Linked DNA regions of Homo sapiens. The protein of the gene in region 2 purifies or fractionates together with the protein of the main gene of each other region. This does not show direct contact. Each region holds a gene or a part of one and is shown on either strand. Other genes may lie near its edges. The genes, in order: CIAPIN1, RGS20 and NARF.

Region 1 (3,600 bases), on a different chromosome or scaffold from region 2:
ATCCAAGTCAGCCATTGCCCCTCTCTGGGCCTCAGTTTCCCTGCCAGCTTTAGCAGAATGGTAGGAAGGCACAATTACAACCTGCAAATGAGACCTAAGAAACCTACTATGTGCCTGTCCCTACACGGGAGACAGACAAGAAGACACTTGTTCCCTGCCCTCAAGAGAACGCTCTGTCTAGACACTTAGACTAAGACCTTAGAGGTTTTTTTTTTTTTTTTTTTTTTTTTTTTTTTGGCAGAGTCTTGCTCTGTTGCCCAGGCTGGAGTGCAATGGCACAATCTTGGCTCACTGCAACCTCCGACTCCGGGGTTCAAGCGATTCTCCCGCCTCAGCCTCCCAAATAGCTGGGATTACAGGCACCCACCACCACACCCAGCTAATTTTTGTATTCTTTGTAGAGATGCGGTTTCGCCATGTTGCCCAGGCTGGTCTCGAACTCCTGAGCTCAAGTGATCCACACGCCGCAGCCTCCCAAAGTGCTGGGATTACAGGCATGAGCCTGGCCCAGAATTTTTTTTAAAAAGTGAGAATCAACAATGAAACAGGAACGTCTCCAGGCATTTGGCGTGTGTCAGGAATTAGGGTTTCAGAAAGGATACCCAAATGTTAGTTTCCACAGGAAAGGCTCATTCAAAGATGGATGGATAGAACTCAGAAACAAATCCTTATGGAGAGGAGTGTTTTACCTAAAACCAGAAATATGGATCTAAAATTTTAACCTTTGGGGTAAGTTTTGGCTTAGGAGGTCTTCCCCGCACCCGTGCAGGGGGGAGCCGGATATTCTGAAAAGACTAGATTTGACAAGGGGTGTGCAAAGCACAACTTTAACAGACACAATGATGGGGTCTGACTGCAAACACAAAATCGACAGAATCACATGCTCTTGTCGTCAGTTACTCTTAGCCCAAAAACCGTTTACTTCTTCCTACTAAGCCTTCTCTGATGACACCCCCGTGAAGTGCTCTGTTAGTGGCTAGACCGTGACCTCCTTGAGCCATCCAGAGCTTGGCACTCAGTAATGTCAGAATGAAGGGCACCAGCCTTTCCCGAACTTGCAGATCCTACAAATCACCCGAGGGAGTGGTTAAAATGAGATTCCTGGACCACACCCAGACCCACTCAATCAATCCTTCTGGACAAAGGCCTAGCTGTCTGTTCTAGTAACAAGCATCCTTCCGATCTGGATACTTAATTATATCAACTCAACACGCTGGGGGTTCGGACAAGTTGCAGGTTCGAAATTACAATCGTGAGCTCAGGTACCCCCCGACTCCAAGGCTTTCGTGCTTTGCTGCCAGGAACCCCCAGGGACCAAAACGTCACGGGGACTGAGGCCCAAGGTCACAACGATTGGCTACTGGTAGGACCGGGTCTCAGAACCAGGTCTCCCCGATCCCAAGCTCGGAGCCGTTTCTCCTCAGCGTGGTGTCCCCGGGGCCTCAGAGTAGGGCCGGCTGCGCAAGGGACGAGGCAGCCGGGGAACGGCAGAAATTCCCAGTCAGGACCCCAGGGAGGTTAGGGCCGGCCCTGGCCCCTCACACCGACTTCTCAGGAATAAACCAGCCGGGGCTTTCAGCGGGGCGGCCGTGGCTGCGTTCCCATCGAGGAACGGGGTGGGAAGAGAAAATGAGAGGATGTGGGAACGAGGGTGGGCCGGGAGGGGACAGTTGAGGGAGCTCTGGCGCTCAGCTGGCCCCCACCACTCTCACCTGCCGCCTGGGCTCGCTCCCGGCTTCTCTCCAGCCGTCGACTCCACGCCTTGCGCCTCTCGCGAGAGGAGGAGGCTCCACGGAGCGACGACTTCCGCCCTCCTTAGGGCCGTGGTCCCGTAGCTACCGGTCGCGTCGCCGTGGGCGACGTGCCCGCTTCCAAAATGGCGGCGGCGGCGGTATCTGGTGCGCTTGGCCGGGCGGGCTGGAGGCTCCTGCAGCTGCGATGCCTGCCCGGTGAGGGGGCTGCCAAGCCGGGGAGAGGCGGGGAGCGCGGAGGGGGCGCGAGGCCGGCTTCAGCTGGGTTCGACGGTGGGGGGAAGAGGCCGTTGGGGCGGCCCACGAGCAAGGTGAGGTGAAGGGCATCGGCGCGGGCTCGGGCGAGCCGCCTGGCTAGCTTCGGCCCTGCTCCGCTGTCTGTGAGGGGCAGATGCAGCGGGGCAGGGCCTGTCACCCCCATTTCATGGAGTTGGCAGAGCCTCAGAGAGGGCTCGGGGTACGAAAGTCACGCAGCCTGAGCCTGTTGGTTACAGAACTGGCAGTCGCAGACCCATTCTCAAGTCCATTGCCAAGTCCACTGGAAGGACAGGTGGACACGGCCACAGAGAGCCTAGTCCATTGTTTCCCGAAAGCCAGCCGTTTCCTCACCACTTCACGAATTCTGTGATACTCTCTTACCACCTTTGCCACTATGTACTCAGTATTTTTATTTTTAAATAGGAGTTCTTAAAGAGGAAACTTTATATCATTGTCATAAATGGAAAACTAATATCGCCTTCCTTAATTAGAACGTATGCATTAACACTTTAGCATACATACATAACTGATGAAACGTTCACCTGTATTTCACCTAAAATCTTCTCATGACCCTCAGTGGTACTACAGTCATACTTTGCATCTGCTCCTTCCTTTTCAAAGTTTTGCGGATATTTGTGCCGTATCTTTCAGTACATGTATTAAAATATTGATATTTTGGCACATACTATTCTGTTTCTTTTTTTTCTTTTTTTTTTTTTTCTGAGACAGGGTCTGGCTCCTCAGCCTCCCAAGGAGCTGGGACTACAAGTGCGTGCCACCCTACTTGGCTTAATTTTGTTGTTGAGACAGAGTCTCACTCTGTCACCCAGGCTGGAGTGCAGTGGTACAATCTCGGCTCACTGCAGCCTCTACCTCCTGGGTTCAAGTGATTCTCCTGCCTCAGCCTTCCTAGTAGCTGGGGTTGTGCCACCATGCCCAGCTAATTTTTTATTTTTAGTAGACGGGGTTTCACCATGTTGGCCAGGCTAGTCCAAAACTCCTGACCTCAAGTTATCTGCCTGCCTCAGCCTCCCAAAGTGTTGGGATTACAGGTATGAGCCACCGCCTAGCCCCCTTTTGTTGTATTTATACAAAATTCCAAACTAAAGATGTGTAGTAAAAGTAATGTCTATGACCCCGCAAATCCACCAAGAGAAATGAAGGTATGTGTCTACAAAAAAGTTAGTACAAGTATATTCATAGCAATTTTATTCATAGTAGCCAAACACAGAAACAGTCCAGTTGTCTAGCAACAGAATAGTATTTTTTTTATGGAATACTATTCTGCAATAAAAACTAAAAATCAGTCAAAGAGAAAGCTGGACACTAAAGTGATAAGGACCATTTTTAATCAGTAATAACTATTGCAATAGGGAAAAGAGTCTAGCATGAACGGAGCCCAACCTTGAGTTTAGAGCATGCAGAAGTCACTGGGTGTTTCAAAGAAAAAATGAGGGAGGAGGGAGGAAGGCAGGTGGGGACTCAGTAGAGTCAGGATAGTGAATAATTATAAATAAGATTGGTCTGCTAGCTGGCAGTTAACAAAGTTAGGATTCTGTTTTCCCACAGGGAGACAAGCCCTATCCTTCTT
Region 2 (3,826 bases):
CTAGGCCAGCCTGGCCAACATGGTGAAACCCCATCTCTACTAAAAATACAAAAAATTAGCCGGGTGTGGTTGCTGGCGCCTGTAATCCCAGTTACTCTGGGGGCTGAGGCAGGAGAATTGCTTGAACTCAGGAGGCAGAGGTTGCAGTGAGCCGAGATGGAGCCACTGCACTCCAGCCTGGGCAACAAGAGCAAAACTCCGTCTCAAAAAAAAAAAAAGAGTATCTACCTAATGTGCTAGCTGACAGCATTCAGTAAATTAATAACATAGAGCTCTTATAACGGGATGGCACATACCAAGCAAAAGCTGTTATTACTATTATTATATTGATGCTAAATTGGCTAGACTTCAAACTATAAATAAGATCAGTAACAGAATGCATATTTTTGTATACTATAAAGAGTATGCATAATGAAACACATGTCCATCATCCAAATTAGAAAAACAGTCTTTTTTTTTTTTTTTTTTTTTTGATGCTGGGTCTCACTCTCTCACCCAGGCTGGAGTGCAGTGGCACGACTGAGGCCCACTGCACCCTTGAACTCCCAGATTCAAAGGATCCTCCCACCTCAGCCTCAGGAGTAGCTGAGACTTAAGGTGCCTGCCACCGCACCTGGCTAATTTTTTAATTTTTTATAGAGACAGGATCTCGCTGTGTTGCCAGGGCTGATGAACAGCCAGTTTAAGAGAATCTGAAAATGTACCTTAGGAGCTTGAAGTGCTAACTTGTCTGAGATCACTGTAAACGTTTTAGCTGAAACACCCCTTATATCAAAAATACAGAATGATGAAAATCAGGTTACTTATTCTACCTCCTTCGTTTTACAGATGAGGAAACATTCAGAGAGGTTAAGGGTCTGGGCCAGAGATCTCCAGCTAATTAGGGGCCAAAATAGAATGAAGACTTCTGACTCATTCCCCAGGGCTCTTACACACCACACTGCTGATTTCCTGTTTACTACGGATTAATGAACTGTTAACAGATAGAAAGTATAAATAAGGAAAAAGTGTACGAGCATGTGCTATCTCTAGCACCAAGAAGGACCAGGCAGTCATGTCGTGGCTACTGTTGTCCCACAGCTTTATCTTGGTCCCTCACATTATAAGACATGACCACATGACTCGCCTCAGGTAAGGTAAGGTCACAGATCAAGCTATTGTCAGAGCCAGCATTAGCATTTTAGGCCCCACTTGGGTATACATTTGATTGCATATTCTATTAATCTCCTGTAGCAGTTTTAGAAATCATTTTTGAGCTTTTCTTGAATTCTTAAAATATCCTTCCAGCTGGCTTTGAAGGTCTTTCCTATAAGAAAGCCTTTTAGAAAACGCCTTCAAAATTACACAGAAGGAGATTTTATTATTCTAGATTTTATGGACTAGCGAGAGTAAAAGAGAAAAGCTTTCTTATTTTAATGCAGTAGCCTGTAACTGGTTTCATTCCAGGCATTAAGTATTAATTCCTGAAATCCTGCTGTTCTTTTATTTCCGCATGTGGGCATCTAACCACATTCACCTTCCATGGACAGATGCAGATAGTGGCTTAAAGGTCCAGCCCTCACATCCACAGTTTAAGAATTATACAGCAGAGGCCGGGCGCGGTGGCTCACGCCTGTAATCCCAGCACTTTGGGAGGCCGAGGCGGGTGGATCACGAGGTCAGGACATCGAGACCATCCTGGCTAATGCGGTGAAACCCCGTCTCTACTAAAAAATACAAAAAATTAGCTGGGCGTATTAGCGGGCGTCTGTAGTACCAGCTACTCGGGAGGCTGAAGCAGGAGAATGGCATGAACCTGGGAGGCGGGGCTTGCAGTGACCCGAGATTGCGCCACTGCACTCCAGTCTGGGCGACAGAGGGAGACTCCGTCTCAAAAAAAAAAATGAATTATACGGCAGAGACTTTCTAGTGAACATCTGGTCTTACAAAGTTATTTATAGGGATGGTGTGTCTTCCAGGGGAGGTACTTCTAGGAATTATGCCTGCATCCTTGAAAAAGGAAACCGTGGTTTTTTCCAGTGTGTGAACTGGATACTGAGTATCTTACTCTTTTTTTTTTTTTTTTTTTTTTGACTCCAAGAAACCTCTTGCATGAATACCCTACTCTTGAATACTTTGCATCTTGGGATACTTACTACATGTTCTTAGACAGAAGGACAGGGCATTAAGAAGGGAGTGACTTTCTAGCATGCTCCCAAGCCAGTTTGGCAGAACTTAGTTTTGAAATCACATGTGTCAAGTTAGGTCCCAATATGATTATAATGTGAATCACTGTCCAATTGGGAATATTTCAGATTGGTTTTCAGTGCACCACCAGGTGACTCACAATGTGAGCTTCTATTCAAACAAGTACAGTGTCAGTCAGCAACTAATAGGGCTCACTCTGAGTCAGAGCTTAGCATTTAGTACAATAAGTGGGAGTCACTGACTACACGGCACCATCTGAGATGGTCCCTGAATGTTACTTTGCGCAGCTAGCTCAAGAGTTAAGGCGACGCTGCTTGGAGTGAGTCAGTTCATAGTACAATTGAATGGGCTCTTGGAGAGGCCATTCACAATCAAGTTTGATGTGGCTGAGTGCTCAGAGTAATATTACATGATTATAAATTCATGGAGTAGATTACCTTGATTCTAATCCAGCTGATTAGAGTCTAGCTATTTGCATAGGGAATCACTTGTGAAATATGAGTAATATGCTCTGTTGCCCAGCAGTGATATTTTACATGAGTTATTTCAATAGTTATTAAAGCCAGTTGACCTTTTTGATTTTGAAAGCTCAATTTCTAGTTACGCATTTATTTTATTCTAAAGTGTAAAATCCTTTTCATGTGAGCATTTGGGTTTTAGGCAAAGGCATCTCATGCAAAGTTATCTGATAGCTTGGCTTCCTGAGGTGCTGGGTTGTACGATGTGCACCTCCGTCCAACAGTGAAGGAGTGGAGAACGCCCTGCTATCTGGTTTGTCTACATTTGTGCCCCTCTGAAGCTGACTGAATTGTGGTTGTTCAAGGCTGGAGCACAAGTTTGTACTGCTGCTCTTAGACTAAGGACACTGGGGACTTTAACCCTTTTAGGGCTGAATGGCTAGAATCAACACTTATACAGCTGTTGAATTTTTGCAACATTGGAAAGAATTATGTAACCTACTCCTTACCTCACCCTTATAATGGACTTTTATGTCTCAGGGTGGGGTGATAATGTGATTTAAGGGACTCGTAGATTTCTTTCTTTCTTTCTTTTCATGTCTTTTATTAACTAATACACAATTACTTGTCTTCTGGTTTGTTGAAGCAATAAATCAGACAACATTAGCCACAATAATGCCTGTCAGAGTGGCTGGCCATAAAAACTCCAGCACCGCATTCATCTGAAGGGCACTCCCAGCGAAGGCCACTAATTCTGCCATTTTCATCCACCTTATAGTATTTCAGGACACCCACTTCACCTTCTTTCTCTTATGCTTATTCTTGGGAGTCGTGTAAGATTTCTTCCTAGTTTTAGCACTACCATGAAGTCTCAACACAACATAAAAAGAGTAAATTCCTTTTGAATGTTGTAGTCAGAGAAAGTTATGTCCATCTTCCAGTTACTTGCCAGCTTCCAGTCACTTGTCTTTGCTGATCAGGAGGAATTCGTTCCTTATCCTGGATATTGGCCTTTACATTTTTCTGTTGTATCCAAGGGTTCAACCTCTAGGGTGATGATCGTCCCTGTAAGGATTTTTGGAAAAATCTGCATTTTGGTGGAGGCTCCACCTGAGGTTGAGGGAAATGAAGAGATGGGTTAGACTGTGGACACAAGAGAGGTGACACAGGAGAGGGTGCTG
Region 3 (3,826 bases), on a different chromosome or scaffold from region 2:
ATTTTATTAGTCTTTGCATAGACCATCTATTAACGTTGTTCTGAATTTCTCATTAAGGTGTGTAACTTTTACTCCTTGTGTAATCAGCAGATACCTAACATTCTCTATTTCTCCTTCTAGAAATGTGATACCTCAAAGCACAAAGTGCTGGTAGTGTCTGTGTGTCCTCAATCTTTGCCTTATTTTGCTGCTAAATTCAACCTCAGTGTAACTGATGCATCCAGAAGACTCTGTGGTTTCCTCAAAAGTCTTGGTGAGTCATCTTTTGATAAATTGGGAATGTATAACTTGAGTTTATAAGCGCCCTTTTTAATCTCTAAAGTTCGTTTTTCAAGGACGCAGGGTAGATAAGCAACTTCCAAAAGAGTCTCTTGGAACGTAAAAAGACCATGTCCCGTGTGTCATGAAACCCAGCCTCTGATCGATGGTAGACGAGTGTCACTTTTCTCCTTTGCTGTGCACAGACAGGTGTTTTGTTACACAGTGGGAGCTGACCCCTCTGGGACCAAACAGTGACCACCTTCTGACAACACGGACAGGACACTGGGAGATTCCCACACTGGCCCAGCAACCTCCAAGTCACCCCTTACCCCCAGAGGGTGTGCATTTGATAAACAGTCACTTCTGAAATGATTAGTATCTGGTTTCCCAAGAAGCTCTCTGAAGAGCAGAGCAGAAAGGGAATGGGCTTGTGTTCTTTACTTGAGGAATGAAAGGTAGAAATTTAAGAATATAATAAAAGAACTCGGATGTCAACGCTGGAATAGTACTACCTGAAATGTTGATGGATGATGCTTCTGCGTCTTCTGCTTTGGTCAAAGGGGAACTGCCTCCCTCCATTTGCTTATAGAGGGGCTTTTACAGCCTTGAGCATCCTCATAGCATGATGGTCAGTGTGCAAGTTCAGAAAGGGAAAATGAGCGAGTTGCCAAATAAGAGGTTTTTTTTGTTGTTTGTTTGTTTGTTTGTTTGTTTTTTGAGCTGGAGTCTCGCTCTTGGTGCCCCAGGCTGGAGTGCAATGATGCGATCTTGGCTCACTGCAACCTCCGCCTCCCGGGTTCAAGAGATTCTCCTGCCTCAGCCTCCCAAGTAGCTGGGACTACAGGTGCGCGCCACCACTCCCGGCTAATTTTTGTATTTTTAGTAGAGATGATGTTTCACCATGTTGGCCAGGATGGTCTTAATCTCTTGACCTCGTGATCCACCCGCCTTGGCCTCCCAAAGTGCTGGGATTACAGGCATGTGCCACCGTGCCTGGCCAAGAGTTTTTATTATTCTACAGCGGCTTTTAAAAATTATAAATATTGGTCAGGTTTGGTGGCTCATGCCTGTAATCCCAGCACTTTGGAAGGCCAAGACCAGAAGATTACTTGAGGCCAGGAGCTCGAGACCAGCCTCGACAACATAACAAGATCCTATCTCTGCTAAATAAGTACATAAATGTAGATATATTGGGGATTACTGGTGAAATAAAATGATATTTGGAATAAGGATCATCAGGACAGGCTTGAAGTCTAAGCAGCAGCCTGGGGGTCCTGATGCTCCCTGTGCCCTAGGCGCCTGGGCTCTAACAAGACCTGGTCATCTAGCACATAATGTGCTGCAGCTGAAACCCAGCTACAGCGACAGGTGCCCACACGTTAGGTCGCTCCTTCATGCTTGTCATCATAAAGCCTCGGGTTAGGTTAGTTACACTGAAGATCAGAGTTGTCAAATGCTATATATTCTCACGATGAAAGCCCTTATTTGGGGCTAGATTCTTAAAATGATGTAACGGAATGTTATATATCAATAAAATGTATCCACAGTAAAATGGATTTCTTAATGTAATATTTTAAAATTTATAATATTTCTTTTTTTGTTGTTCTTGAGACGGAGTCTTGATCTGTCACCCAGGCTGGGGTGCAGTGGCGCCATCTCGGCTCACTGCAAGCTCCACCTCCCGGGTTCACACCATTCTCCTGCCTCAGCCTCCCGAGTGGCTGGGACTACAGGCGCCCGCCACCACGCCCGGCTAATTTTTTGTATTTTTAGTAAAGATGGGGTTTCACCATGTTAGCCAGGATGGTCTCGATCTCCTGACCTCATGATCTAACCGCCTTGGACTCCCAAAGTACTGGGATTCCAGGGGTGAGCCACCGTGCCCAGCCTAATATTTATTATAGCTAGTTGCATTTTCTCTCAGCTTTGTTACCTGGGGAGGGGGAGAAACAAAAAATTTAAAATTAAAAAAATCAGGCCGGGTGTGGTGGCTCATGTCTGTAATCCCAGCACTTTGGGAGGCCGAGGGGGCAGATCACCTGAGGTCAGGAGTTTGAGACCAGCCTGGCCCAACATGGCAAAACCCCATCTCCACTAAAAATACAAAAATTAGCCTGGCATGGTGGCAGACACCTGTAATCCCAGCTACTCGGGAGGCTGAGGCACAAGAATCGCTCAGACCCAGGAAGCAGAGGTTTGCGGTGAGTTGAGATTGCGTCACCACACTCCAGCCTGGGTGACAGAGCATGACTGTCTGAAAAAAAAAAAAGGCTGGGCATGTTGGCTCACGCCTGTAATCCCAGCACTTTGGGAGGCCGAGGTGGGCGGATCACGAGGTCAGGAGATTGAGACCATCCTGGCTAACGCAGTGAAACTCTGTCTCTACTAAAAATTCAAAAAAGTAGCCGGGCGTGGTGACGGGCGCCTGTAGTCCCAGCTACTTGGGAGGCCGAAGCAGGAGAATGGTGTGAACCTGGGAGGCGGAGCTTGCAGTGAGCCGAGATCACGCCACTGCACTCCAGCCTGGGCAACAGGGCGAGACACTGTCTCAAAAAAAAAAAAAAAAATTCAGTATAAAAATTTAAGCCATTATAAAAGTATGCCCTTGCCGGGCGCGGTGGCTCACGCCTGTAATCCCAGCACTTTGGGAGGCCGAGGCGGGCGGATCACGAGGTCAGGAGATCGAGACCATCCTGGCTAACACGGTGAAACCCCATCTCTACTAAAAATACAAAAAATTAGCCGGGCGTGGTGGTGGGCGCCTGTAGTCCCAGCTACTCGGGAGGCTGAGGCAGGAGAATGGCATGAACCCAAGAGGCGGAGCTTGCAGTGAGCCGGGATAGCGCCACTGCAGTCCAGCTTGCGCGAAAGAGTGAGACTCCGTCTCAAAAAAAAAAAAAAAAGTATGCCCAGCCATTCTATACTTTTACTGTACGTTCTACTTTTAAACACATCAAGAACCATCACAGACTGAAATTTAATTTGCCTGTGAATTGGAAGGGAATGCTGTGGGTACGTTGTAATATTTCATTAATTTATATATGGAGTAAGGTGTTTTAAAATGTAGAGAGGGAAGAAGCATGAGAGAGAACATACATATTTCATTGTGAAAAATCATACACGCTCATTGTTTACAAAATAAAAGGTAAAGCACACGGTCTTGAACTTAGGCCGTTAGGAATAGATAAGAACCAAGACTGATTTTATTATCTTAGGAGGGATGCCTGTAGAATCTATGCTTTAAGTTTGTCTCTTAAACGTGAGAAAGCAAAAATGAGTAAGAATGAAGAAGTATTGGCTGGATGCAGTGGTTCACGCCTGTAATTCCAGCACTCTGGGAGGCCAAGGTGGGTAGATCACTTGAGGCTAGGAATTCAAGACCAGCCTGGCCAACATGGTGAAACCTCATCTCTACTAAAAAATACAAAAATTGGCCAGGCATGATGGCGGGCACCTGTAATCCCAGTTACTCGGGAGACTGAGGTGGGAGGATCACTTGAACCTGGGAGGCGGAGGTTGCAGTGAGCCGAGATTATGCCACTGCACTCTAGCCTGGGTGACAGAA

What was found.
Region 1: the proteins of RGS20 (region 2) and CIAPIN1 purify together in Homo sapiens (affinity purification with mass spectrometry; 2 studies listed by BioGRID and IntAct, with this or other methods). This does not show direct contact.
Region 3: the proteins of RGS20 (region 2) and NARF purify together in Homo sapiens (affinity purification with mass spectrometry; 2 studies listed by BioGRID and IntAct, with this or other methods). This does not show direct contact.

What each region holds. Positions count from the first base shown.
Region 1 is NC_000016.10:57,445,630-57,449,229, forward strand, and holds the start of CIAPIN1 (anamorsin), read right to left. Parts: upstream 1,757-3,600; 5' UTR 1,713-1,756; intron 1-1,712. Other genes in the region: COQ9 (ubiquinone biosynthesis protein COQ9, mitochondrial precursor), read left to right, coding at 1,877-1,949. UniProt on the Homo sapiens protein: Component of the cytosolic iron-sulfur (Fe-S) protein assembly (CIA) machinery required for the maturation of extramitochondrial Fe-S proteins.
Region 2 is NC_000008.11:53,883,742-53,887,567, forward strand, and holds part of RGS20 (regulator of G-protein signaling 20), read left to right. Parts: intron 1-3,826. UniProt on the Homo sapiens protein: Inhibits signal transduction by increasing the GTPase activity of G protein alpha subunits thereby driving them into their inactive GDP-bound form.
Region 3 is NC_000017.11:82,468,644-82,472,469, forward strand, and holds part of NARF (nuclear prelamin A recognition factor), read left to right. Parts: intron 1-120; coding exon 121-253; intron 254-3,826.